Linked DNA regions of Homo sapiens. The protein of the gene in region 4 purifies or fractionates together with the protein of the main gene of each other region. This does not show direct contact. Each region holds a gene or a part of one and is shown on either strand. Other genes may lie near its edges. The genes, in order: GALNT4, GALNT12, GALNT2 and PIANP.

Region 1 (7,674 bases), about 83 Mb from region 4:
ATATTACTTTCATTTTGTAAAACTTATTATTATAAACCTTGGCAAGAATGCAATGTTTTATACATTTACATAACACTTGCAATCACACAAAAGTCATGACAGTGATTAAGAGAGTGGATTCTGGGCCAGGTGAGGTGGCTCACACCTGTAATCCCAGCACTTTGGGAGGCCGAGACAGGCGGATCACGAGGTTAGGATATTGAGACCATCCTGGCTAACACGGTGAAAACCAGTCTCTATTAAAAAAAAAATACAAAAAAAATTAGCCGGGCTTGGTGGCGGGCGCCTGTAGTCCCAGCTGCTCGGGAGGCTGAGGCAGGGGAATGGCGTGAACCTGGGAGGCGGAGCAGCTTGCAGTGAGCCGAGATCGCGCCACTGCATTCCAGTCTGGGCGACAGAGTGAGACTCCGTCTCAAAAAAAAAAAAAAAAAAGAGAGAGTGGATTCTGGAGGCAGACTGCGAGTGTCTAAAAATCTCAACTCTGCCACTTCCTAGTTAGCAGTGTGCCTTGGGCAAGTAACTTAATGTCTTTGCATATCAATTTACTCATCTATAAAACGGAAATGGTAATAATAGCACATCTCTAATAAGATCGTTATGATCACTAAATGTCAAAATTTGTAAGGTACTTAGAAAAGTCCTGGCATGTAGTGAAAACATAGGTAGGTATATTAGTCCGTTCTCACATTGCTATGAAGAACTACCTGCGACTGGGTAATTTACAAAAAAAGCGGGTTTAATTGGCTCATGGTTCTGCAGGCTGTACAGGAAGTATGGCTGGGGAGGCCACAGGAAACTTACAAACATGGTGGAAGGCAAAGGGGAAGAGAGCATGGCTGCTCCATGGCTGGAGCAGGAGGAAGAGAGCAAAGGGGGAAGTGCTACACACTTTTAAACAACCAGATCTCGTGATAACTCACTCAGAACAGCAAGGGAGAAATCCACCCCCATGATCCAATCACCTCCCACCAGCCCCCTCCTCCAACACTGGGGATTACAATTCTACATGACAGTTGGGTGGGGACACAAATCCAAACCATATCAGTAGGTGACAAATTTTTTAAGATCAACTTTAGGTAATAGGATTAATATGTAGTTTCCCTCCCATCTTTTAAATTTAAAACATGTGTTTCTTGATAATTGAGAAAAAAAGTAAAAGCTAAACTTTTACTAAAACACTTAAATAAAAATCTATATTTTTTCTTCTTGTGAGCTAGTTTCTAAATCTCCAACTTCTTCCCTTTTCTGCTTCTCCTGTGCCCAATATTAGACGTAACATACCTATGAGTAATCCTGAGGTCCTGATTACTCTTCAGCTTCTGGCATTATTATTTTATTATTGGGGTGAAATACCTGTAATGAAATTTACCATTTTACCCATTTTTTAGGTGTACAATTCACTGGCATTAAGTACATTCACAATGTTGTGCAAACATCACCACTATCTATTTCCAGAACTTCATCATCCCAAACAGAAACTCTGCACCCATTAAACAGTAACTCCCCAGTCTCCCTTACCCCCAGCCCTAGTAACCTCTATTCTACTTTCTGTCCTTATGAATTCACCTATTCTAGGTACCTCATATGAATGGAATCATACAATATATGCTCATTTGTGTTTGGCTTATTCACTTAGCAAAATGTTTTCAAGGTTCATCCATGTTATAGCTTGTATCACAATTTCATTTCTTTTTATGGCAGGATAATATTTCCTTATATGTATATATCACATACATTTTGTTTATCCATTCATCTGTTGGATACTAGGATTGTATCCACTTTTTGGCTATTGTAAATAATGCTTGCTTTGAACACTGGCATCTGTTGGAGTCTCTGCTTTCAATACTTATGGGATATACCTAGCAGTGAAATTGCTGGATTATAAGGTAATTGTATGTTTAACTTTTTAGGAACTGACAAACTTTTTCACAGAGCTACATCATTTTACATTCCCACCAGTATCCAGCATTAGTTTTAAACATGGCAGGCTTTTAAAATAAATCAAGCCTAAACTGGTAATATGTAGCAAAACTAAGAGTCCTGCAACAGTTTGCTGACAAGTTGCTGATATCAACACTCTTAACATATCATCTCCTAGACTAATGCAGTGTTTCTCAACATAGACAGCTGAGACTCCCATAGTAATCATCTATGGAGCTTGTTACATCAGAAGGGCCCTGGATCCCACCTTGTATATGTTGATTCAGCATCTCTGGAAATGGAGCCCCCAAATCAACATTACAAATGCTAAAGCATGAGACTCACCAACCCTAGATTGCTGAGTTCTTGAAGGTAGGGGAAATATCTTAGTCATCATTGTGTCCCTCAAGGCCAAACATACAACAGATATTTAACAAGTGTATACTTAAATTAACTAATACTGTAATCTAAAGCCTACCTGTTTAGTTGTTAAGTACCATATTCAATAAAATTAAACTCAATCACTAGACAACTAGGGAATCTGTAATTAAGGTGTGTAGCATACCTTTCATTTGCATAAAACACATGTCTTACCAGCTGTGTTCTATCATGCCCTTTGATGTTGCTAAGGATCTTTACACTATATGTAATTTTCAGCTCAGAACATCACGCTTTGAGGCAGGGTTAAAAAAAAAAAAAGGATATGGACTTGGAATTAGAAGAACTGTCTCTGTGTGACCTCTAAGACCAATATCTAGGAATCAAGTTTATAACTTGGAAACATTGAAAACATTTTGTAATTCTACCAACTTCATTGTTTGGCTGAAGCACAAATGATACTATGTGTAACAAAGCCTGCTGTAGAAACGTGGTCTCACAAAAAACAAACAAAAAAAACCATGTTTCCAAGTCTTCCTAAAGACTTTAAGTATCCAGCTGTGTAAGTTTAGTGCTCTAAGGTATACGCAAATAAGCAGATGAGAATGGAAACATATCGCAGAAAATTATTAAGTGCATGCACAACATTTATTCATTCATTCACTCATTCATTCATCACGCACATCCAGCAACTATATCAATATCCTGCAGGGCACTGTGTGGAAAACAGTGGTTAAATAAATTCAAATCTGCCCTCAGGGGATTTAGTTCCTTTTAGTATATTAATAACTAGCAAGCTGCCCCTCTTCATGTCAAAGCTTTACGTCAACAAAATAAGCGGTAGGGGATCACCTTAAACGTCACGGGTGCTGTCTCTTTAAAACGTAATAGAACTCTGATCGCATCGATCACAGGCTCACAACGCCCTTCCATTCATCGCTCTTATTCCAGTCCTGGTTACTACCCCACTTCCTGACATCAAACCAGGGAGAACGCGAGTGTTAGTTAACATGGCTTGGTGTGTGGCCACAGCTGACCCGGCGCATACCTCCCGTCCTCTCTTTACAGGGCTGGCGGTGTCTCGGGGCTCGGCTGGCCATGCCTGGAGCGCGGGGTTTGACTGGGCCGCCGTTGTTGTAGTGACCGGGAGGCGCTGCCGCTCTGGGCAGACGGTTCCGGGAGCCGCACGGTCCCCTCTCCTTCCCCATCCTCTCCCCTCCCCTCTCCGGGTTCCCCCACCCACAGGAGCCTTGGGCCGACCACTCCCCCGATGGCCTCAGCCACGGTAAGGACGGGTTGGAGGTGGGGGGGGTCCCTCCCTGGAGCCTGTCCCGCGGGCTGCGGGGCCAGGTCCGGGCCGAAGCCGCACCTGGAGGGAGATGGAGGCAGGTGTCCGTAGCCGGGTCCTGAGCCCCTCGTCCCGGGGCGTCCGTATCTCACTCTCTGCCATCGGGGCGGACGGAGTGCGGAACCCAGACCCGGCTCCCGGACGCTCTTCCCCGAGTTCCGGAGCTCCGGACTGAGCTGGGCGGCCCCACGGCCCCCAGAATTCTCGGAGGGTTTCCGTGGAGCGCCTGCGTCAGAATCACCTAGGAAGTATTAAAAAAAAAAAAAGTACCAAAGCCGAGGCGCATCCTCGCACCTGCCTGCCTTGGGCCAGCGGGCGGGGCCCGGGAACGTGCATTTCAAAGGGGCCGCGGTTCCTGCGATGCGCTGGACTCTGGGAAGCGCGAACAGAGCGTTTTGCGGGCTCTGCGGGGAGAGCTGGCGCCGGCGTCTCCCTGTAGCAGGACTGGGCGCCGCGCCCGTGGGTGGGCTGCTGCCCGGCCCCGCCGCCCAGCCAAGCCGCCGCCTGGGTGGCCATTCCCAAGCCGGACTCCGGGGAAGTGGCAGCGTGGATCCCAGCCGCCAGAATTCGAGGTCTGCGGCGGCTTTCAAAACTTGACAACTTTCCTTTCCAGGAGGACCCCGTTCTGGAGCGTTATTTCAAAGGCCACAAAGCTGCGATCACCTCCTTGGACCTCAGCCCCAACGGCAAGCAACTTGGTAAGTCTTATTCTTGTTTTGCTTTTGTAATGAGACTAAACTCCATGGGCCGGAAACCTTTCCTCCTGTCCGGGCAGGGTCCCTAGGAGAACGGCTAAGGGCCTGTATGAGGGTTGAGAGCACCCGGAGACGAGGGCCCAGCGCGGCGGGGCGCAGCTAGGGCCCCCTCTGCCATCCCGGCCCCCAGCCCCCGGCCCGGCCAAGAGCCTCCTATCCAGCGGTCTGGGCCTGGCGGACGACTTTCGCAAACTAACCACCAGGAGGAGTGAGTGGGAAGGGGAGGGGTTTCTCCTCGGCCCGGGGAGGGTGGGGTGTTGGCTGGAGAGTTTGTGAAAAGTTGTGAGCCGAGCAGGAGGAAGTAGGGAGAGAGGAGTTGGGCTGTGCCGGAGGCCGAGGACCGAGAGGGCTCAGGTGACCCCTGGAAAGCCTGGGTGGCTGGAAAGGAGCCTAGCGCCTGCATGAAAGGAAGAACCTGCTGGGAAGTACCTGAGCTCGAGCTGTGGGTTCCGCCGCCCTTCCCCTGCGTGGTGGCTTGGTGGCCGCGTCTGCGCCTCAGCCCTGAGAATCCGGATGGCGGTGAGGTGGACTTGGGCAGGCAAGAGCTGCCTGCTGCTGGCGTTTTTAACAGTGGCCTATATCTTCGTGGAGCTCTTGGTCTCTACTTTTCATGCCTCCGCAGGAGCCGGCCGTGCCAGGGAGCTGGGGTCAAGAAGGCTCTCAGACCTCCAGAAAAATACGGAGGATTTGTCTCGACCGCTTTATAAGAAGCCCCCTGCAGATTCCCGTGCACTTGGGGAGTGGGGGAAAGCCAGCAAACTCCAGCTCAACGAGGATGAACTGAAGCAGCAAGAAGAACTCATTGAGAGATACGCCATCAATATTTACCTCAGTGACAGGATTTCCCTGCATCGACACATAGAGGATAAAAGAATGTATGAGTGTAAGTCCCAGAAGTTCAACTATAGGACACTTCCTACCACCTCTGTTATCATTGCTTTCTATAACGAAGCCTGGTCGACTTTGCTCCGTACCATTCACAGTGTTTTAGAAACTTCTCCTGCAGTTCTTTTGAAAGAGATCATCTTGGTGGATGACTTGAGTGACAGAGTTTATTTGAAGACACAACTTGAAACTTACATCAGCAATCTTGATAGAGTACGCTTGATTAGGACCAATAAGCGAGAGGGGCTGGTTAGGGCCCGTCTGATTGGGGCCACTTTCGCCACTGGGGACGTCCTCACTTTCCTGGATTGTCACTGTGAGTGTAATTCCGGTTGGCTGGAACCGCTTTTGGAAAGGATTGGGAGAGATGAAACAGCAGTTGTGTGTCCTGTTATAGACACAATTGATTGGAATACTTTTGAATTCTATATGCAGATAGGGGAGCCCATGATTGGTGGGTTTGACTGGCGTTTAACATTTCAGTGGCATTCTGTCCCCAAACAGGAAAGGGACAGGCGGATATCAAGAATTGACCCCATCAGATCACCTACCATGGCTGGAGGACTGTTTGCTGTCAGCAAGAAATATTTTCAGTACCTTGGAACGTATGACACAGGAATGGAAGTGTGGGGAGGTGAAAACCTTGAGCTGTCTTTTAGGGTGTGGCAGTGTGGTGGCAAATTGGAGATCCACCCGTGTTCCCACGTGGGCCATGTGTTCCCCAAGCGGGCACCATATGCTCGCCCCAATTTCCTACAGAATACTGCTCGGGCAGCAGAAGTTTGGATGGATGAATACAAAGAGCACTTCTACAATAGAAACCCTCCAGCAAGAAAAGAAGCTTATGGTGATATTTCTGAAAGAAAATTACTACGAGAGCGGTTGAGATGCAAGAGCTTTGACTGGTATTTGAAAAACGTTTTTCCTAATTTACATGTTCCAGAGGATAGACCAGGCTGGCATGGGGCTATTCGCAGTAGAGGGATCTCGTCTGAATGTTTAGATTATAATTCTCCTGACAACAACCCCACAGGTGCTAACCTTTCACTGTTTGGATGCCATGGTCAAGGAGGCAATCAATTCTTTGAATATACTTCAAACAAAGAAATAAGGTTTAATTCTGTGACAGAGTTATGTGCAGAGGTACCTGAGCAAAAAAATTATGTGGGAATGCAAAATTGTCCCAAAGATGGGTTCCCTGTACCAGCAAACATTATTTGGCATTTTAAAGAAGATGGAACTATTTTTCACCCACACTCAGGACTGTGTCTTAGTGCTTATCGGACACCGGAGGGCCGACCTGATGTACAAATGAGAACTTGTGATGCTCTAGATAAAAATCAAATTTGGAGTTTTGAGAAATAGAGCACAACAGCACTTTCGTCATGAGCTGACAGTAGTGTCAAGAAAGTCAAAGAGCCTTAAGAGCCTCAGTGAAGATTGTATTTTATTTTATCAAAAGCCACCTAGCAGTCATCTGTGGAGCACTGGAAAGCTGGGGTTCATTTTGGTATATCACACTGAAACTGGGTACCCAGAGTGCTGCTGTTTAATATTTCACAATGCCTTACTTATTGGTTGTTTTATATAAGAGTTTTGTCAATATGGTCTCTTCTTAAAAGAAGTTGACTATGAATTGAAACACACAAAACATTTAAGTGCCAGACTTAATATTAAAGAATGTAAAGGTCCAAGTAAAATGAGGTATGATTTATGTTGATGTGTAAGTTCACCGCACATCCCACTTTTTAACAAAACTCATGAATGTGCAGTTTGAGCCATTGCTATTTTGATTACATAGAATTTGTATTTCTTTTTTAGCCAGCACATTAAATTTTAGATTTTATTTTTTAATCTAATTTTTTTCTAATCAAAAAGAAAATTGAGCTTAAGGCAAAAGGCCTGGTTTTAGAGATATGTGTAATTGGAAGAGGGCATTTGTTTGAGTGTGAGTTTGGAGGCCTTTTTAACATGCAGACATACCCATATTTAAATGAAATGGGGAGATATTTACATTCCGTACTTTGTAAACTTGAGCTATTGGACTTCACTGATGTATATATTAATACCTCAGATTCCTCTGATTTTGTAAGCTGTCTTCTCTGTGAACGTGTTTGTGTGTGTAGGGCATTTTCTGATTGCACTTCCTTAAGTTATGAATGTACTAGAAAGGGACTCATCCAGAATACTATGCCTCCCTTTGTTAATGCTTAATCATTTAAAGTAAACACAATTGAAGCCTCTCTGAAGTTAAACCCAACTATGTTTATTAAAATGTGTGAAACTGAAAGTGGGCTAGGTTCTACCAAGGCTGTGGAACTCTCCTACGAGTTCTGCTGATCAGGAAATTTAAGAATTTATCTTAAAAATGCAAGGAAAAAAGACTGC
Region 2 (7,023 bases), on a different chromosome or scaffold from region 4:
TAGACCAGCCTGACCAACATAGTGAAACCCCGTCTCTACTAAAAATACAAAAATTAGCAGAACGTGGTGGTGGGCACCTGTAGTCCCAGCTACTCCGGAGGCTGAGGCAGGAGAATCACTTGAACCTGGGAGGCGGAGGTTGCAGTGAGCCAAGATCGCGCCATTGCACTCCAGCCTGGGCAACAAGAGCAAAACTCCATCTCAAAAACAAACAAAACAAAACAAAAAAACAAAAAGAAACATCCCCCCTCCAACAAATACATGTTATAGCAAATGGAAAACATATGTGTGTGTATTATAAAAATATTAATAACTGCGTCTTCATTATTAAGCCCCTGAATACTAGACAAGATGCATAGAAAAGCTAGATTGTGTTGAGTTGTAGCTCACCAGGAGCCTCAGAAAGAATTAACCGCGAGGCTAGGCGCGGTAGCTCACACCTGTAATCCCAGCATTTTGAGAGGCCAAGGTGGGAGGATCGCTTGAGCCCAGGAGTTGGAGATCAGCCTGGGCAACATGGCAAAAACCTGTCTCTACCAAAAATACAAAAATTAGCTGGGCTGGGCACAGTGGCCCACGCCTGTAATCCCAGCACTTCGGGAGGCCGAGGCGGGTGAATCACGAGGTCAGGAGATCAAGACCATCCTGGCTAACAAGGTGAAACCCCGTCTCTACTAAAAAAATACAAAAAATTAGCCAGGCGTGGTGGCTGGTGCCTGTAGTCCCAGCTACTTGGGAGGCTGAGGCAGGAGAATGGCATGAACCCGGAAGGCAGAGCTTGCAGTGAGCCGAGATCAGGGGCCACTGCACTCCAGCCTGGGCAACAGAGCAAGACTGTGTCTCAAAAAAAAAAAAAAAAAAAAAAATTAGCTGGACATGGTGGCACACACCTGTAGTCCCAGCTACTCAGGAGGCTGAGGTGGAAGGATGGTTTGAGTCAGGGAGGCGGGGGTGGCAGTGAGCTGAGATGGCGCCATTGCACTCCAGCCTGGGTGACAGAGCCAGATCCTGACTCAAAAAAAAAAAAAAAAAGTTAATTGCTTACACTACATGAAAAACAAAAGTGTTTCTGTGAAACCTAAAATAAATATTTTTTCTTAAGATGCTGCTAAAACTTTGTTTCAAACATGCACAAGTTCAAGAGAAATAATTGACAATAAGGACGGTGAAGTGAGGTTTTCAAAGTGAGGTGCATTCAATGTAGAGAACAATCCTTTAGTCTGAAATCACATCCTTAGTATTTTGGATGAAAATTTATTTCTTCTCTTGTCAGCCCTGCTTTTTTTTTTTTTTTCTTTTTTTAATGTGTTTCCACTAAAACCAATAGCCTAGGGCCACCATTCTAGAATGTCTAGGTGGGCTCTTCATTTGTGCCATCTAAATCACAAGAAGGCTGGGTGCCAATTTTTCAATTAATATTCAGAGCTTTAAAATGTTCCTCTTTTCTTTGATCTCATATCAACATACATAAACATTTCTTGCCTAAGTAAATAGTCAGAATACCCTGAAGGAGGCTTGTTGTAAAAATTTTTCTTTGTAACATTATTTATAATAGCAAAAAGCTGCAAACAATTTCAATGTCGAACAAGAAGAAAATATAGTATAGTATGGCTGCATGAGGAAATCATGGCCATGTATTTTCAGCACGCCTTGTACTTTACCTGGTAATAACAGTACCCTTTGTTGAGTGTTTACTACATGAGAGGCACCACGTAAAACAACAAAATAACATTTTTTAGAGAATATTTAATGATAAAGGAGAATGGTCACACTATAATGTTAAATCAAAAAGGCAGGATAGAAATCTACAGATAGCCAATTCTAGAAACAACAACGTGTATGTGAGCGCGTTCACGCATAAACAATAAACAATAGAAAGAAATATGCCAAAATGTTATCAATGGTGATCTCTAAGAAGTGAGATTATTGCTGATTCTTACTTTTTATATTTTTGTGCATTCTAAAATTGTCCTAAAATGAACATCTATAATTTTTATAATCACAAAGAAATATTATTTTTAAAAGATTAGATCATATTTCTTTAGTTCCTCACAGCAAATGCCTTCATTGAGCAATAATTTAATACTCTGCCCTTTCTCTTTTTCTTGTCCTGGTATAGTTTCTGTTTCTTTTTTGAAAACATCTCCTAAAGGCATTCTGTTTTATGAGGTTCAATACCAATGCCCCTTGACTTACGGTGGGGTTACATCCCAATAAACTCATCGTAAGTTGAAAACATTCTAAGTAGAAAATGCATTTAATACACCTAACCTACTGAACACCACAGCCTAGCCTAGTCTATCTTAAATGTGCTCAGAACACTTCCATTAGTCTATAGTTGGGCAAAATCATCTAACACAAATCTACTGTATAATAAAGTATTGGATACCTCATATAATTTACCAAATATGTACCAAAAGTGAAAACCAGGTTGGTTGCAATGGGTACTATGATAGAGTTGAAAAATCTTAAGTCAAACGATCTTAAATCGGAGATCGTCTGTATATCTTTTTGAAATGTCTTTAAGTTTGCTTCCAGAAAAAAACACTTTCTCCTTTTCCTGACTAATAAAAAGCTGTGCATCTTTTGATCATACAAAGACAGCTATGGATCACTTTAAGGTTCCACTTTTGCCTTGAGGACAAAAGGAAGCTCAGAACTGGATTTAATGCTACATCACAGCACACAATCATTTCCCTAAGTTTCTGGTATATTGCATGTGCTTTGTAAGGGCAGAGACTGAGCTGTGTTTGTCTCTGTATTTTCAGCACGCCTTGTACTTTACCTGGTAGTAACAGTACCATTTGTTGAGTGCTTAATACAGGAGAGGCACCATATAAGCATTTTATACACATTACTTCATGTAGCCTTCCTAACAACCCTACTGGGTAGGGACTACAATAATCTCTGCTGGTAGAATATTTACTTATTATATGGATATGAATGAATTAATGGATACAGTAAATGCCTCTTGATCTTCCTTTTTTTTTTTTTCACCCAGGCTGGAGTGCAGTGGTGGGATCTTGGCTCACTGCCACCTCTGCCTCCCAGGTTCAGGCAATTCTCCTGCCTCAGCCTCCCAAGTAGCTGGGATTACAGGTGTCCGCCACCATGCCTGGCTAATTTTTGTATTTTTAGTAAAGACGTGGTTTCGCCATTTTGGACAGGGCTGGTCTCGAACTCCTGACCTCAAGTGATCCGCCCTCCTTGGCCTCCTAAAGTTCTGGGATTACAGGCATGACCCACTGCACCCAGCCCCTCCTGATCTTCTTTTATCTTTATATTAAGGTTATCACATAAATGTCTTTTAAAAAAAATCAAATCATATCCTCTGTAGAAAAGGCCAAGGAGATCGTGATGTACATTTTTGTGTCTTACCTGCCTAGAATCCTTTCTCCTTTCTTCACTGTACACTGCATCTTGATTTCCCTTTCAAGAGCCAACCTTTTCCAATTCTCAGTCTATGTGGTTTGTGGAGGGCTGAACATACACAAGCACATGCATATACACACAGAGACACACAGACACACACCCCTACCCCTGGGAAGGTTACATGCCTCAGGCCTGACCAATCAATAATTTCGTGATGACATCAATTGAGTCCCTGAATCCAGGGCCCAGAATAACCTGAACTCAGTTCTCATCCCAGACTTTTCTATAATAGAACCCAATATATTTTCTTTTATATTTAAGGCAGTTTGCATTGGGCTTTCAGTTACTTTTAACCAAAAGAATCCTGTCTAGTGTAGAAAATAATTATTTTTAAAAAGTGAATATAGGACTTCTACTTCTGGCAACATGGAAGACTAAGATGTCTAGGGAAACACTCCTGGTATATACACCCAAAAAATCTTGATAAAAAGTTTTTTTTTTTTAAATCTCTTGGCTGGGCGCTGTGGCTCACACCCGTAATCCCAGCACTTTGAGAGGCCAAGGTAGGTGGATCACCTAAGGTCAGGAGTTCAAGACCAGCCTGACCAACATGGTGAAACCCCGTTTCTACTAAAAATACAAAAATTAGCAGGGCATGGTGGCAGGCGCCTATAATCCCAGCTACTAGGGAGAAGCTGAGGCAGAAGAATCACTTGAACCCAGGAGGTGGAGGTTGCAGTGAGCTGAGATCGCACCATTGCACTCCAGCCTGGGCAACAAGAGCAAAACTCCATCTCAAAAAAAAAAAAATTTTTTAAATGGATGGCTTAGCCGACAGGAAAGTAAAAGAAGTCTTCTTCATGAAGGAACAACAAGAAAACACTAATCTAGATAACATAATTACCAGACATAGAGTATAAAATAAGTATGCTTAATATGCTTAAATAAAAGAAGACCTCAAATGAATGACAAAGAAACAAGAATGACAGAGAGATCTGGGTCACTGTAGGCATCTCATAGCAATGGTGCAAACCAGATGACAAGGGAATAATACCTTCAAATGTCAAACTACCAATGTAGAATTATATACCCAGCAAAACTTTCATGAACAAGAGCAAAATAAAAACATTTTCAGATAAAGAAAACTGAGGACTAACAATAGACCTCTCTACAGCAATTAATACATGATGTATTTCAGGAAGAAGGAGAAGAATCCCAGAAAGGTCTCTGACTCAGGAAAGAATAGTGAGCAGAGAAAATGGTAAACTTGTGGATAAATCTGAACAAATAAATACTGCATTTTTAGCTATTCTAATTTGTTGGTTTAAAAGCAAGACAGAATTAAAATATTGGAGCAAAATGGCATACAAATTAGGAGAGAAGATGATCAATACTAAAGCATTCTATGGTCCATAGTTAATATTTAATTTTAGACTTTGTTGAGTTAAATATGTACTTTAAAATTTACCACTAAGGTTAGAAATAGATAATATAACTACTAAATTAGTAGAGAGGAAAAAAATGGAATGAGGGGAAAAGCCTCTATCGACTCAAAAAGCAGTAGGAAAAAAGAGGGGGAAAACACCAAAAAAGCATAACAAATGAAAACATAAAATAAGACAGCACTATCAAATCCAAAAGCATCAGTAAGCACAATAAATGTAAGTGGATATAACTATCTTGTTAAAAGTTAATGATTGTCAGTTTGGATTTTTCTTTTTAAATGGAGTCTTGTTCTGTCGCCCAGGCTGGAGTACAGTGGTGCAATCTTGGCTCACTGCAACCTCCAGCCTCCTGGGTTCAAGTAATTCTCCTGCCTCAGCCTCCCAAGTAGCTGGGACTACAGACACCCACCACCACGCCCAGCTAATTTTTCTATTTTTAGTACAGACAGGTTTTCACCATGTTGGCCAGGCTAATCTCGAACTCCTGACCTCAAGTGATCCACCCACCTCGGCCTTCCAAAGTGTTGAGATTATAGGCGTGAGCCACCACTCCTGGCCTGGATTTTTTTTTAATGACAACACAAAATCGAGCAACATACTATTCAAAGACACACCAAAAACATATGGACACAGAATGAGTGAAAGAAAAAGGTATCAGGAAAATACTAACCGAAATTGAACATGTTCTGTGGATTTGAAGTACTGGAGTACTGACTCAAGAAAGAATGCCACTCTGATGTTCTCAAGATGGATCTAATAAGAATTCATAAAATATCCACAACTTTGTTGGGGAAACAAAATAAACATCAGTCTAATGTCCTACTCCCTTCTGCAACCCTAGCAAGACATACTTTTGCTTAATTACCTGTTTAGAACCACTTTGAGGCTGGGCATGGTGGCTCACGCCTATAATCCCAGCACTTTGGGAGGCCAACACGGGCAGATCTCCTGAGGTCAGGAGTCTGAGACCAGCCTGGCCAACATAGTGAAACCCCGTGTCTACTAAAAATACAAAAATTAGCTGGGTGTGGTGGCGCTTGCCTATAATCCCAGCTACTCGGGAGGCTGAGGCAGGAGAATGGCTTGAACCCAGGAGGTGGAGGTTGCAGTGAGCCAAGATCGCACCATTGTACTCCAGCCTGGGCAACATAGCAAGACTCCATCTCAAAAAAAAAAAAAAAAAGAACGACTTCGAGACTCTTTGCCATCCCAGCACCCAAATCCTGACCCCTGAACTCAGACACACATCTGCAATTATAGTATTAACAAGCCTAAAACCAGAGCAAGTCAAGAAATAAAAACACCATGCTTTCCTTGACCAATGGTTCACAGTTCTTCTGCCCTGGTAGAGAATGGCTGGTGTTCACACATATGGGATTCCTGTCATAGATAGACCTGAAGAAATGTCCAGCCCTGAGGGCACTGTCTGTTACTCCACTCTCTCTTCTACTAAATATCAGAATGCAAATGAGAATGATGTTACAGTGATCATCTCAAGTTCCCCGTATTCTATGGAAACTAAAACTTTTTGCAAATTTTGGTACAACATTACTAATAACCATTTCCTTGTGACACACCACTCAGTTGACTATGATGTCATCACTGGCTTGAACTACATTTGACCTGTTATTAATCCTTACTTTCTCTAGTTCTGGTATTCTCCACACCCTCCAAAACACTCACCCTAAATCTTCTGACTCAGAAATCCACAGGCTCTAGGCCAGTAGCTTTCACCCGTGGTTGCATATCAGATTCAGCCTAGGTCCTAGCCACAGATATTCTGATTTCATTGTTTTGGGGAAGATTCCTGGCATCAATATATTTTTTAAAGTTCCCCAGGGCCACACACCCAACTATCTGTCTCCCCACTTTGACCCGCTATCATCTCAGAGTAAAAATTCACCTTCTTTGCTGAGATGCTAGTCATACTATACTACTATGCTTACTGACTTACTTACTATACTTATTTATATTAATATATATTAATACTTACTATGTTACCATGCAAGGAAGGATTCCTAGTCATCATTAGCCTCCTCTTCAATTCAGTGCTGTAACTAACAAAACTATACTCGAATCCACTGGCATGTAAATTATTAGATTCATAGAGGGGCCCAGGTCTATACTGGCTCTCACAGAATTAGGACCAGTACTCTAAAATGTCTTTTTAGTGGTCTGGCCTTCTTCAAGAAGGCAGACACAGTGC
Region 3 (7,023 bases), on a different chromosome or scaffold from region 4:
CTCCTTTGCAATGATGGGAGAAGAGAAGGTAGTGGGTTTTTCTGTTTGTTTGTTTGTTTGTTTTTTGAGACAGAGCTTTGCTCTTGTAGCCTGGGCTGGAATGCAATGGTGTGATCTCAGCTCACAGCAACCTCTGCCTCCCGGGTTCAGGCAATTCTCCTGCCTCAGCCTCTCGGGTAGCTGGGATTACAGGTGCCCGCCACCACGCTTGGCTAATTTTTTTTTTATTTTTAGCAGAGATGGGTTTCACCATGTCGGCCAGGCTGGTCTTGAACTCCTGACCTTAGGTGATCCACCCACCACAGCCTCCCAAAGTGTTGGGATTACAGGCGTGCGCCACGGCGCCTGGCGGTTGTGCATTTTTATGCCTCTCAGAAAAGGTGTGTATGTGTGCAATGGAAGCAATTAATACTGAGTATCTTCTATCTTAAGCTATTATCTAACAGGCAGGGGCTATAACTAGCAGCCGCCTTAGTGCCCACAGTTAAGAATCTGTTGTATAGGCATACCAGGCAGGAGGTGTAGACATCATATTCTGGGGCCAGACGCAGAGGCAGAATGGGTGCTTTGCGGTTGAGTGCACATGGCCGAGAGGACAGAGCTGGCAGGAAGACCAGGGCCCTGCAACCAGCAACTGTGACCAGTGCACCCTTGCCGCTGCAGCAGAGCCTGGTCCGAAGCTGATGACAGAGCTGATGCACCAAAGTGTGTGACATTCTATCTGGCCCTGGTGCTGGCTGCCAAAGAGGCTGTGGCCAGCAGGAGCCAGGTGCTTCCTCATAGACATCACCCATCCCAGGAGAAAGGTGGCAGCTGGGACTTCTAACATCAGGACCCCCCCAACTCCTGCTCTCTCTGGGCCTGCAGGTGACCTGGCTTCCCCATGCACATACCTGGTTTCCCCCAGCATTGTGACATTCATAAACTCCAACCACACCATCAGCAAAGTGTCCCAAAGTGTCGAGGCAGTTAGTTCCCTGCTGCAAGGCCCCAAAAGCTATATCCTGATGGTCTGGAACCCTGAAAAACAACGTGAGAATCACCTGCTTCACTGCACATGACCACCAGCTCCCGTCCACCAGCCCCTTTGCTCAGTGGCCTCATGACAGGTGACAGGAACGAGAGAAAGACCCAGTGACTAGGCATCGTGCCTCTTCCTACCACAGGTAGTGTGTGTCAGGGACACGGCATTTCTCCCAGGCTCTGGACTTCCAACACTTTAAGACTGTATGTTGCAGAAGTATTCTTTATATTCTATATCAGGTCATTTTTTTTTTTTTTTTTTTTTGGAAAGGAAGGAAAAGCTCCTGATACTCTTCAATGTTAGTCTTATTGGAAGTCATTTAGAAAATCAATGTGGTCAGATCCTGTTGCCTTGAACTTTCCAATACACTTAGGATCTGACCTTTATCCAGTAAAGACGGGAAAGGTGGGCAGACTTGTCAGGTGGTCTAATGTGAACAAAGCCACAGCCACGGGGAAGAACAACGTGCTTCAGAACCAGATCCAAACCTCAGCCCACCTCTGCCAGGTGCTGGCTTTCAGGCAAGACTCACTTTCTCTGAAGCTCGATTTGCCCTTTGGTAGGCTATGGGCTACCCAGATCTGCTGCAAGTGTTACATAGAACATTTCGTGTAAAGCACACGGCCCAGTGCCTGGCTCGTAGGAGGCACTCAGTAAACGGCGGTGATATTACAGACACAAAACACGAGGCTGATGTCTCCCTCACCCCCCACAGACAGGGGAAGCAGATTTGCCAGCCAGGATGGTGCTCAGTGCCTCAGATGTGGTCTTCAGTGGGTGCGGGGCCCAGTGTCACTACAAACCATGGGTGACCTCTGTGAGAAATGGCAGTCAACTGTGACTGAAAAAGCAAAGTGAGTGGCATGGTTGGGTTAAAATCCACTGAATTGAAGCCCCTCTTTGGCTGACGGAGAGTTGATGAGCAGCCGCCTTAGTGCCCACAGTCAAGAATCTGTTGTATAGGGACACCAGGCAGGAGGTGTAGACATCATATTCTGGGGCCAGACACAGAGGCAGAATGGGTTCTTTTGGGTTGAGTGCACATGGCCGAGAGGACAGAGCTGGCAGGAAGAAGACCAGGGCCCTGCAACCAGCAACTGTGACCAGTGCACCCTTGCCGCTGCAGGTGACCATCGCTGGTGACCATCTGGTGCTCTCAATCCCCAGCAAAAGCTGTCCTGCACGGCAGGGATCCGAGGGAGAAGGACGCTGTGTTCTCTCCTGTTCTCCTCCTAGGGGGCATGGGCCACCTGGCGCCTGGCATGTTACTTGAAAAGCAGAGGAAACGGTTCCAAAGAGCCAAGTGAGCGAACAGGAGCAACAGAGAGAGGCCGCATTACCTAACTGTCCAACAAATCTCCGTGACAAGGGCTCTGAAGGAGCTGTTAGCGGAAAGATAATGGTGGCAAGTCTTGCGTTCGCAGGCACTGTGCTGGAGATATGTGAGCCGCTGTAAAATGCTCTGGGAATATTTAGAATAAGGAATGTGCCGCATTAAGGCACGACCTGCCTGACAGTCCCTTTAAGAAGATGAAGTGCAGATGGCTCCTCCACCCCAGCGGATCTATAGGTCTTCTCACGAGGTTATCAGCAGGTCCCTCCAGATGGGGAGCTCGTATTCGCTTAAAACAAGAGGCTGGGTGTGGAAATAATGCTCAGAAAGGTGTTTCTGCCATGAATCCTCCGGAGGGACGTGGGGCAGCAGCATTATTACTTCCGTTTCACATGTGATTAACCTAGCTGGGAGGAGGGAGCCTCGTGGGGGCTGTTATCTGCTGGCCCACAGGAGCAGCAAGGGTGAGCGCAGCAGATCGGAGGCATGCAAAGGCGCCTGGCGGGGGGATCGAGGGCTGGCTGCAGACACTGCATGCTTGCGGAGGCTGGGGACTGCTCCTGGTCACTCGAAGAGCCTGTCAGACACCAGTCCTTCAGGTCACCCAGCCCATCACCTTGCCAATGGAGAACAAGCCAAAAACAAGGTGAGGCCCGGGGGACTGCCTCTGGGACTCCGAAGCATGGGAGGGCAGCTCTGCAGGACAGAGACAGCAGCAGGCCAACTTGGGAGCAGATTCTCAGCTCCACACCATGGAGTGAGACCACAGGCTCTCACTGGGGCCCAGGTGCCCAATCTCATGCCTGCAGCCCCACCTCCATTTCCCCTCTGCTGCTTCTATGGCCTTACTGGCTTCTAAGCCCTTACAAAGTGAAACCCCAGATCCCTGGGGACTTACCTTAACTCTGGATAGACATTTTCAAGGTACCATTTGAAAGGCTTGCAGCTGAGTTTCTTCCTAAGCTCCAATCTGCTCTGAATACTGGAGAAGAGGGAAATAAGATTCCTTTATAAATTTTAAGAATAGATGGGCTTTCTACATCAAACTTGAAAATCTGCTGAGGAGAACAGGGTTGGGGCAGGTGGTGTGGTGTGGACTGCCCATGCTCCTGTGCCCACAACCCCTTCCCGCCTTGGCACCTGGGTAGCTGAATTCAACGCTGGGGGCAGCCCCTTACCTCCCACCCCCACACCCCAAGAATCCCCAGTAATTGTGAGAAGGCAGAACTGCCACTTACTTTCCATAAGGAACGTTTCTAGCAGAAGGCACTGCTGCATAATAGAAATTTTTGTATTCATCCATCCAGACCTCTGCTGCCCGGCGGGTGTTTCTAGAAAGAAAATAAATCTTGAGGTGTGATTTCCTTTCTTTCTGTCTGCATCACTCCATTTGCACCTGTCTGCTGGCGTGTGACTGAGGCGGCTCCCTCTGGGTGTGCAGCAGCTCCAGCTGGGATCACGGCACACAGCAGAGGGTGGGCTGTCCCCACCAGCACCTCGAGCTGGACCTGTGGGGAGCCAGCCTCAGCGGGTGCTTACTGAACCATTGGAATGGCTTTCTTGTCACACAGATGGTCAAAGGGCAAAAGGCAAAGTGGAAATTACAGCACGAGCCAATATTTTAAAGGAGGGACTGGGGTCTATATCTTAAAGAAGGACAAAAGAAAGTTACTCTTTAAAAACTCTCACATTACGCGTCCACAGAGGGCCGGGGCCACAGAGCACAGCAAGGAGATTCCAGGCCCCACGGCCTTCTCCGTCACGGCTACGACACTATCAGACAGCTCTGCATTAAAGTTCAGACTACATAAGATAAGAGTTCCTGGGAAAATCACTTTCTTTTCTGCGGGGCTAAGCTGAAAGACTGCCATGTTTGCACTAGCTTTTTTTTTTTTTGATGGAGTCTCGCTCTGCTGCCAAGCTGGAGTGCAGTGGCGAGATCTCGGCTCACTGAAACCTCCGCCTCCCGGGTTCAAGCGATTCTCCTGCCTGAGCTTCCTGAGCAGCTGGGACTATAGGCATGTACCACCACACCCAGCTAAAATTTTTGTGTAATTTTAGTAGAGACGGTTTCACCACATTAGCCAGGATGGTCTCGATCTCTTGACCTTGTGATCCACTCGCCTCAGCTTCCCAAAGTGCTGGGATTACAGGCGTGAGCCACCGCGCCCAGCCGGCTTTTCTAGAAGGAAAGAAAACCATGTACTTAAATCTCATAGAGAGAACCATGATTTGCCATAAATAAAGCCCCTGGGACAAGCTACTCTTGAATGTCTGACATGCATTAAAAGCTATCATCTGCATAGGTATCAGCAGTGTATTCTGCCAAGAATTATCTTAAAGCATCCATGAAGTAGCAAGCACACAGCTAACCTCTTTGCTCCCATATTCTGGTCTCGGCTATAAGGTGGACTCCCACTTCAGGCTATAGCTAGCCCTCCTTAAGAACCCCATAGGAAGGCACTGTGTTCTTCCAAAATAAATACAGTAAGGAGGTAATGCTCGCCTTTTAAAATAATTCCTTAAAATGGCGAAACTTTCAACTGATCTGAGATACCATTATTAAAATAATTTCTGTATGGGGCCTATATCTTTCATATAAGGTGATATATATACTTTTTCATTTTAGTAAGTAGAATATGGACTATTATCCATAATGCCATTCAACACAGATAAGAACATATGAATGCACCTATTCTCTGACCCAGCAGCTCTACTTCTAGAAATTTATCTCAAGGCAGCAATCAATTAGGAATGAAATATACATGTGAAAATATGCTCACTTCTGCTTTGTTTATAATAGCAAAAAAAAAAAAAAAAAAGAGAAACTTTATGACTAAATATGAGGAAGGAATCAAATGAAATATTCTGTGACCACTAAAAACATGAGTGTGCATCTTACATGTTGACAGAAATGATGTCCTGGACTTGTGGGAAAATAAAATAGTTTGCAGAATTGCATATAGTGGATATGTGTGTAGAGGCAGAAGGAGAGCCAGTGAGCAAACAAGAGAGAGAGACAGAAATAGATACTGACAGACGAATTCATCAAATTATGAGAGTGTTATGGCACAACTGGTTTGGTGATGAGACTGATGAATTTTTACTTTCTCTCTATTAAAAAATATACAGATACAACAATGAGTACTTAAAGTGCTGGGGGATACTGGATCATACATATCATTTCTCAGAAGAGCCACTAAACATTGTTAGTGGGGTTTTGCTAAGTGACCTATGCCTTAACCTATGCCTAGTCAGTTTTTAACCAGTTATTAACTTAAATACTTGTAACATCTGGCACCTGGATTTCCCCAACAGGGACATGAAAGGATTTGATTCCAGAATGTCCTAGGTTCCTTTCAGCCTTAATGATTTAAAGGTTTTATCAACTCCAGTCATACTGTTTTCAAATCACTCAAGTTTTTAAGTGACTAAATCACTTAAAAATTCCTAAACGCAAAGCAACTCTTTTCTGTCTTTGTAATAGAAAAGGATAACTAGGCAGCCCCAAGGAATGATCTCCATGTGCTACTCAGTGCTAGCTCCTTTTATTCATTTATTTATTGGTTCACTCAGGTATTTATTTGGTATCTACACCAAACAGTCTCAGTGCTGCAGATACAGTGGCACCGAGGGAGACTCACTTTTGTCCAGGCCCTCCTTGTTTTTGCAGGTATTTGCAAGTATTTAGGTAGTATTAAATAAGTATTAAATAAATATTAAATGTCATCTATTACAAGTTGGGCATCCCTAATCCAAAATGTCCTAACATCCAAAACTTTTTGAGCACCAACATGAGATAGTGACGAAACTGCCTTTGCAAAAAATTTAACAATGACAAAATTGACAGTTTAAGGCATCTGACCTGACTGACTCCATCTAACTTCTAACGTCTAAACTGCCCTTGTTCACTCCTGGGCATAGGCAGAACTAACTTTGGGAGAAACTTAGTTTATAGTTTAACTTTAAAACAAAGATGGTAACAGCCCTTTCCCCAAACAAACCCTCTTTTTGTCTGGGTACCAGACTGCCTTTGTTGGACTAACAAATCAGCCACAGATTTGCAACTTCCCCAATTACTCCTGCAGATAACATCACCATTGCAGAACGTAAGATTGGCCTTTTGTAATGTCTTTTCAGGCTTCTGCACTTCTGATGACTCCATCCAGATCTCCAGCTTGTCCTGTGGACCCATCCATGCAGAAGCAGACTCGGCAGGCACAAGGACCATTTTCCACACCCCTATGATTGCACCTCATCCAATCAGCAGCACCCACTCCCTAGTCCCCAGCTCCCTCCAGATTATCCTTGAAAAACCCTAGCCTCTGAATTTTGGGGGAGATTGACTTAAGTAATAAAATTCCAGTCTCCCACTTAGCCAGCTCTGTGTGAACTAAACTCTTTCTCTATTGCAATTCCCATCTTGGTAAGTCAGCTCCATCTGGGCAGCGGGCAAGGTGAATCCAGTGGGCGGTCACAGTGACGCCTTTGCTTTCTGATGGTTTAATGTACACAAACTTTGTTTCATGCAGAAAATTATGAAAAGTATTGTATTAAATTAACTTCAGGCTATGTGTATAAGGTCTATATAAAACAAACAAATTTTGTACTTTGACTTAGGTCCCAGCCCCAAGATATCTCATTAGGTAGTACATATAAATATTCC
Region 4 (6,863 bases):
AGGGAGAGAGCGTGGCTGAGACACAGGCCTACTGTGGGCCTATGTGAGGGAGGGACAGGTTCACACCAGAAACCTCCAGGTTTCCCTGTGAAAGCAGGTGGGCCTTGGGAAGACTCGCCTCATTTCCCATCTTCCAAAGGAGGATGGCCCTCAGGATGGGAAGGCTCTGGATGGGTCTAGGAAGGAAGGAGTCATGGCCCCAGGGAATGTGGTCTCCAGGCTCCCTCTGCTGGGCCAAACTTACCACATCCTGGACTCCATGTCTGAGGTCTTCCTCAGCTGTGACCCAGATTTTCAGCCTTTACTGGGAGAAAAAGGGGGCCGTCACACCCCAGCCCTGCCCTGTGTACTTCCCCAGCTAATTCATCCACCAATTCTACCCGCATCTGCCCTCCCAGGCCACCCAGCTGCCAGCTATGCGGCTGCACCCAGGATTCACTGGTTGTTAGCATCCTTTTGGGGGAAAAACTCCAGCGTGGTTGCCTGACCAGACTCCAGCCCCATCTACAACTTCTCAGGTCCCTGTTACCTCTCCACCCCAGGGTCTACTCTGGCTTCTCTGATTTCCCTTCTTCTCACTTCCTCTGCCCACAGCTCCAGGCTTTTCTTGGATCTTAATTTAGAGCCAAGAACCTTGTGATTCCTTGAGCACCTACCGCTAGGGAGGGAGTCTGAGGGTAGGGGGAGGGATGGGGAAGTCAATCTGAGCAAGCCAGTGAGTGTGTGTACGTGCAGGGGGGCCCTTCCAGCCCTCCCAGCCCTCCCACCCCTCTGGCAGTGCCAGGCATTTGTCTTATGATTAGCCCCAGGAGTCTGCATCTTCAGGAGAAAGGAATGAAGAGCTGGAGGGATGGAAGGAAAGAGACAGAAAGAGAGAGGTGAGTGGGAGAAAAACTACAGAATATAATTTTTGCTCTTAATGTTTAATCATCCAAGTGCATAGGTGCCCTCTGAAGGGAGGTGGAGTCAGGAAGAAACCACCCCCTCAAATGTGGCTCTCCTGGGTAAAGAATCCTGGGAAAATCGGGATGGTTGGTTTTGAAAGAGAAAGGGTGTGTTCTCAGAGCTGAGGGTGGTGGATCCAGGAGGGGCAGGCTCCCCAGAGGGAGTGAAGATAGGATACCCGTTTCCTGTGGATTCTGGGTCTAAATCTGCCCAATGGGCCAGACGCAGTGGCTCACGCCTGTAATCCTAGCACTTTGGGAAGCCAAGGCGGGTGGATCACCTGAGATCAGGAGTTCGAGACTAGCTTGGCCAACATAGTGAAACCCCGTGTCTACTAAAAATACAAAAATTAGCCGGGGGTAGTGGTGGGCGCCTGCAATCCCAGCTATTCAGAGGGCTGAGGCAGAAGAATCCCTTGAACCTGGGAGGCGGAGGTTGCAGTGAGCTGAGATCACACCATTGCACTCCAGTCTGGGCAACAAGAGCGAGACTCCGACTCAAAAAATAAAATAAATAAATCTGCCCATTGAATCTTCCCAGAGAACAACAAGGGAACAAGATGGGAAAGTCACGGGAAGGGCGTGGGGAAGCAGGCAGTGGGAGAGATGGGAAGGGGTGAAGGGCTGGGAGATGGAAGGCTGGTTAAGAGTGAGAGAGGAGAAATGTGAAGAGGAAGCTGGCCTGGAGTGCAGGGTGAGAGAGAGCAGGCAGTCCTGAAAAAGAGAGAACTGGGAAGAGAGGAGGAGAGTGGGTACAGAAGACTCGAACTGTGGAGGATGCCGAAGGGAGGAAAGGATGAGAGAAAAGGTCAGGGAGGGGAAACGGAGAGGATGAAGGGGTCACAGGTGCAGGGGAAGAAGGGGCAGGAGGAGAAGGAGAGAGCGGTCCAGGCAGGACAGCCAGAGGAGTGGAGAGTAAGGGGATGGGAGAAAAGGGGGGAAAGCCCAGGATGGGGAGAAAGGAAGTGGGGAAGGAGAGAACATAAATGCTTAAGGAAAAATGACACGAGGAACGGGCTGGGAAGCAGAGGCGGGAGCAGCAAAGATGGAGGAGTTCGGAATTGCTCCCCCAAATGTAAAGGGATGTGGAGATACCGAAAGACATAGGGATGGGGGCATGGTGGGAAGAAGGGAGAGAGAGGGGAAAGGAAGAAAGCTAGAGGGAGGGAGCGAGGCGTGTAGAGCGAACCAGTGAAGCGGAGAAGGGCTCCCAGGGCGCATCTGTGGCCAGCTGACTCTAGGACTATCGCCCCTCCGCCTGTGCATCCCCACCCCCAGCCAGCGCCAACCCAGTCCCTGGGCCCCGCACAGCTTCAGCCGCCCCCTCCAGGAAGCCCGCAGTCCCCGGGCTGGCGCGCCACCCCCACCCCTCTCCCAGCTTCTCACCGACCTGTTGTGCGCAGGAGACGAGCTGGGGGTGGGGCAGGAGCCTCGGGGTGCGGGAGCCGGGCCCCAGCCCCAGCGTGGCCCCCATCCCACCCATCCCGCAGGCCCGCACTCCCCGCACAGGGCTGGAGAGCGGCGAGAGTGGGGGGAGACGAGGAAAAGGAGGTCGGCGAAGGGACCCCGAGGCAGGGAGTGCCGAGAGCGGACTGGGGACCCGAAGCAGGAGACTGCGCGGAGCCGCCCGCCGAGCCGAGGCGGGATGGAGGCAGCCGCGGGGACGGGGACGGCTGCGCCAGGGAGGGCGGGAGCGAGCCAGGACCGCGGAGGGATGGAGAGCCCTTCGGGGAAGGGGCGCTGGGAGGCTGGAGGCCTTGTCCCGGGCGAGGGACCGCGTCGGGAGGGGCAGGAGGCGCAGGGCGCGGAGCCGGGAAGGGCAGGGCCGGGCTCCCCGCGGGTGGGGGCGTGGGGGTCCCTCTCACTCACCTGCATGCTTGGCGCGGCGGCGCGACGACTGCGGGCGCTCGGGACTGAGCGGGGCTGGGGGGTCGCAGGAGCGGGCGGGGTGCGGGGCATGGTGGGGAGGTTTGGCCCGCGGCAGGGCGCTGGAGCGGGTGGGGGGCGGGCGCCTGGGGCGCGGGGCGGCGGCGGTGGGAGATGCTCGCCTCGGCTCGGCTCGGCTCGGCTCGGCTGGGCTCGGCGCGGCGGCTGGGACCGCTCCGTCTCCGTCTCCGCCTCCCCCCCGCGCCGGAGGCCACGCACGGTTTAACCCTCCTGCTGCCGCGCTGCAGGAGTCAAGCCAGGCTATGTCCCAGGTGGAGGGCTGAAGAGGCTGGCAGGGTCCAGCGACCGTCCGCTTCCCTGGGTTCTGATGGCAGTCTCCCCACCTCCTTCACCCCAACTCCAGGGACACCCATGGTCGCCTCAGTCAGTTTCTGAGATTCTGAGTCACTCAATGCTCTGCATTCCCAACTTTGTTCTTTTGTATTGTGTTTTGTAGAGATGAGGTCTCGCTGTGTTGCCCAGCCCGGTCTCGAACGCCTGGGCTCAAGCGATCCTTCCCGCTCAGCTTCCCGGAGTGCTGGGATTACAGGCGTGAGTCACCACTGCCTGTCCCCCAACTTGGTTTTGCCCGCTGTAGAAAGTGCCTGAGGTCAAGGCTGGGGGCAAGGGGTGGAGGAAAGGACTGGGGAGGAAGGACCTTGCACCATCTTTGGATTATCCCCACAGCTTGATCCCCTATTTCACTCTGGCCCTGCTACCATGCATTAAGTGGATCACGTCGAAATTCCTGGGCTTTTCCAGCACTGGAATACCTAGACTCCGTGCTGTGACTTACAAGACCCTATATAACCTGGCTCTTAGGTGGCTCTCTGATTGCCTTTCCTAAAGATTTCTATGCTTCAGCCACATGGGACCTGGTGGATTTCCTGGTTGGAGACAGGTTTAACCTGCCTCAGGGCCTTTGCACTTGCTGTTCCCTCAGTAATACATTTCCCTGGCTTTTCACAATGACTTACTGTTTTCATTCCAGTCTCACTTAGATCCAACGCCTTCTGGGAGGCCTTCCCTAATGTCTCTATCAAAAGTAGCCTCTCCTGCCCCTTCTCCCACCACCTGGATCCCATCCCTCTCTACCACACTACGCTGTTTTTCCTCAGGGCACTTCCAGGACACCACACTCTCCTCATTTCCCTCCAACCTCACTGACTGTTCTTAGTCTTCCTCGGGTGACCTCTAAATGTTGGAGCCTCCTAGGGCTTAGTCCTTGGCCATTCTCTCTTTCCACATTCTCTGTCCAGTGATCTCATCCGGTCCCAGGGCTTAAATACTATGTAAATGTCAGTGAGTCCTAAATTTATATCCAGAGCGCCAGACTCATTTATCCGACAGCCTACTTGACATCTCCACTTGGATGTCTAATAGCCATGCAAAGCTAACTTGACTAAAATAGATGTCTTGAATTCCCCCACCCCCAATCCATTTTTCTCCCAGTGATCCCCATCCTGAGGCTTCACAACTACTAGTTGTTCAGGCTAAAAATCTAGGAAACATCCCTCCCTTCCCCTTTTTTTCACTGATTCTCTCCCTGTATCTAATTCACCAACAAGTCCTGTGGGCTCTGCGTCCAAAATATATCCCGAATTCATCTCCTTCTATCTTTATTGCTATAGTCTTGGTCTAAGCCATCATGTCTCATCCAGATTATCATAATAGCTTCCTCACTGGTCCCTGCTTCTGCCCTTGTCTTTACAAACTAGTTTTTCCTATATTGATAATATTTTAAAAATCAAAAGCATGTCATGCTCTTCTCTGCTTAAAATATTCGAGTGGTTTTTCATTACACTTGGAATAAATCTGAACTCCTTGTAAGGAGAAGCCCACCAGCCTGTACCCACCTCATACACAGTGCTCCTGCTGGATCAGACTACTTGCTGTTCTGTAACATCAGAAGTCATTCTCTTAGCATCCCTGCACTTTTTTTTTTTCTCGAGACAGTGTGTCTCTCTGTTGCCCAGGCTGGAGTGCAATGGCACGATCTCAGTTTACTGCAACCTCCGCCTCCCAGGGTCAAGCAATTCTCCTGCCTCAGCTTCCCAAGTAGCTAGCGTGTGCATGCAGGGGGGCCCTTCCAGCCTTCCCAGCCCTCCCACCCCTCTGGCAGTGCCCACTAGTGCCCTGCTAATTTTTGTATTTTTTGTAGAGACAGGGTTTCACCATGTTGGCCAGGCTAGTCTTGAACTCCTGACCTCAAATGATCCACCAGCCTTGGCCTCACGAAGTTCTGAGATTACAGGCGTGAGCCACTGCGCCCGGCCCCTCCACTTTTGATTCCCTCTTCCTGGAATGTTTTGCCACCCCTCTCCCCATCTTCACCTGGTTGGCTCCTTCATCCCTGCTCAAAATCTAAAGTGGCCCCCACTCTGTTTCCTCATTATGTTTCATTGTCTTTCCAACTCATCACTTTCTATTTGTTTATTTATTTATTGAGATGGAGTTTTGCTCTCGCAGCCCAGGCTGGAGTGCGATGGTGCAATCTTGGCTCACCGCAACCTCTGCCTCCTGGGTTCAAGCGATTCTCCTGCCTCAGCCTCCCAAATAGCTGGGATTACAGGTGCACACCACCATGCCTGGCTAATTTTTGTAATTTTAGTGGAGACGGGGTTTCACCATGTTGGCCAGGCTGGTCTCGAACTCCTGACCTCAGGTGATCCTCCCACCTCGGCCTCCCAAAGTGCTGGGATTACAGGCGTGAGCCGCCACGCCTGGCCCGACTCATCACTTTCTGAAATGATCATATATGTGTTTACTATTTACTGTCTGCTCTCTCCTGCCCCCCTATACATTAGAGAGCCAAGATCTTATTTGTCTTGTTTACCGTGTATCCCTACTCCTACTGCAGTGCCTTGGAATGTAGTAGATGCTCAACATGTACCACTTAATGAACTTCTTCTGGGACCCCTGCCCACTCTGAACTCTTTTAATTCTCTCCTCTGCTGTCCTCCAGCCATTCCTCTCTAGCTGCCTGCCCCCTACTGATCTCTGCCCTACGCCAAATGCTTCAGGTTGAGCCCTTGCTCATGTCCACACCCCTTCAGATCCTCCTCCTTCATTTGCTGCATTGTGACCCGTTGTCAGCCTGGCGCTCCTGCCTCGTGAAAGGAAGGAAGCCTGCTGTTCTGACGAGCATCTGCAGCAGCTGCCCTCTTGCTTGCGTGTCCCTGACAGCCCTTCATTTGAGGTCAGAACAGCAGCGAGTGAGCCGTCCTCCTAGTGTCTCCCAGTGGTGGGGGAAAGACAAGGCACACTGGATGTGAACCCGGCCAAGGGGCCATGTGAGTCAGGTGCGCAACTCCTGCCACCTCCTGGGCCCCTTAAGCCCCAGAGCATCCTGAGGATATGCTCCAGGTGAACTCATGTCACTGGCATGGACCAAGTTTATCAAGTGAATATTCATGTTCAGTGTAAGTGCCTTTGACACTGAGGACCTTGGGTCATTAATTATTTCTATTATTCTTGATTCATTCATTCTTTCCACATTTTTTTTTTTTTTGAAACAGGGTCTCACTCTGTTGCCCAGGCTGGAGTGTAGTGGCACAATCATGGCTCACTGCAGCCTTGACCTCCTGGCTCAAGCAATCCTCCCACCTCAGCCCCCAAGTATCTGGGACTACATGTGTGTGCCACCATGCCAGGCTAATTTGTGGTGGTGGTTGTTTTTTTTTGTTTTTTGTTTTTGTTTTTTTTTTTTGGCAGAGATGAGATTTTGCCACGTTGTCCAGGCTGGTCATACAAATATGGTCATTTAAATGGTGTGACACGCCAGGTACCGTGCCATGGCTGGGGATACAGCGGAGAGCAAGAATGAAGTCATCACTGTCTTGGTGGAGCTTACAGTCTGGTAGGGAGACAGTGCAGTGATAAATGTGACTTCAGATGAATTTGAGGACCTACCCACACTCTACAGTCTCTATACAGTCTCTATACATCCTTGTCCTGTTTCTGGCTCTGCTGGTATCTTCATCACTATCTCTG

Evidence for each region.
Region 1: the proteins of PIANP (region 4) and GALNT4 purify together in Homo sapiens (affinity purification with mass spectrometry, with the first as the bait; 2 studies listed by BioGRID). This does not show direct contact.
Region 2: the proteins of PIANP (region 4) and GALNT12 purify together in Homo sapiens (affinity purification with mass spectrometry; 2 studies listed by BioGRID and IntAct, with this or other methods). This does not show direct contact.
Region 3: the proteins of PIANP (region 4) and GALNT2 purify together in Homo sapiens (affinity purification with mass spectrometry; 2 studies listed by BioGRID and IntAct, with this or other methods). This does not show direct contact.

Annotation. Positions count from the first base shown.
Region 1 is NC_000012.12:89,521,790-89,529,463, reverse strand, and holds the start of GALNT4 (polypeptide N-acetylgalactosaminyltransferase 4), read left to right. Parts: upstream 1-4,667; 5' UTR 4,668-4,914; coding exon 4,915-6,651; 3' UTR 6,652-7,674. Other genes in the region: POC1B-GALNT4 protein, read left to right, coding at 3,569-3,583, 4,260-4,344, 5,024-6,651; POC1B (POC1 centriolar protein homolog B), read left to right, coding at 3,569-3,583, 4,260-4,344; POC1B-DUSP6 readthrough, read left to right, coding at 3,569-3,583, 4,260-4,344. UniProt on the Homo sapiens protein: Catalyzes the initial reaction in O-linked oligosaccharide biosynthesis, the transfer of an N-acetyl-D-galactosamine residue to a serine or threonine residue on the protein receptor.
Region 2 is NC_000009.12:98,810,661-98,817,683, reverse strand, and holds part of GALNT12 (polypeptide N-acetylgalactosaminyltransferase 12), read right to left. Parts: intron 6,859-7,023; exon of another isoform or gene 6,847-6,858; coding exon of another isoform or gene 6,811-6,846; intron 5,571-6,810; coding exon of another isoform or gene 5,488-5,570; intron 1-5,487. UniProt on the Homo sapiens protein: Catalyzes the initial reaction in O-linked oligosaccharide biosynthesis, the transfer of an N-acetyl-D-galactosamine residue to a serine or threonine residue on the protein receptor.
Region 3 is NC_000001.11:230,259,238-230,266,260, reverse strand, and holds part of GALNT2 (polypeptide N-acetylgalactosaminyltransferase 2 precursor), read right to left. Parts: intron 6,784-7,023; exon of another isoform or gene 6,680-6,783; coding exon of another isoform or gene 6,498-6,679; intron 3,689-6,497; coding exon 3,596-3,688; intron 3,340-3,595; coding exon 3,256-3,339; intron 1,021-3,255; coding exon 894-1,020; intron 1-893. Other genes in the region: uncharacterized protein LOC124904542, read left to right, coding at 6,498-6,679. UniProt on the Homo sapiens protein: Catalyzes the initial reaction in O-linked oligosaccharide biosynthesis, the transfer of an N-acetyl-D-galactosamine residue to a serine or threonine residue on the protein receptor.
Region 4 is NC_000012.12:6,697,801-6,704,663, forward strand, and holds the start of PIANP (PILR alpha-associated neural protein isoform b precursor), read right to left. Parts: upstream 3,016-6,863; 5' UTR 2,814-3,015; intron 2,616-2,813; exon of another isoform or gene 2,335-2,615; intron 305-2,334; 5' UTR 262-304; coding exon 245-261; intron 1-244. UniProt on the Homo sapiens protein: Acts as a ligand for PILRA in neural tissues, where it may be involved in immune regulation.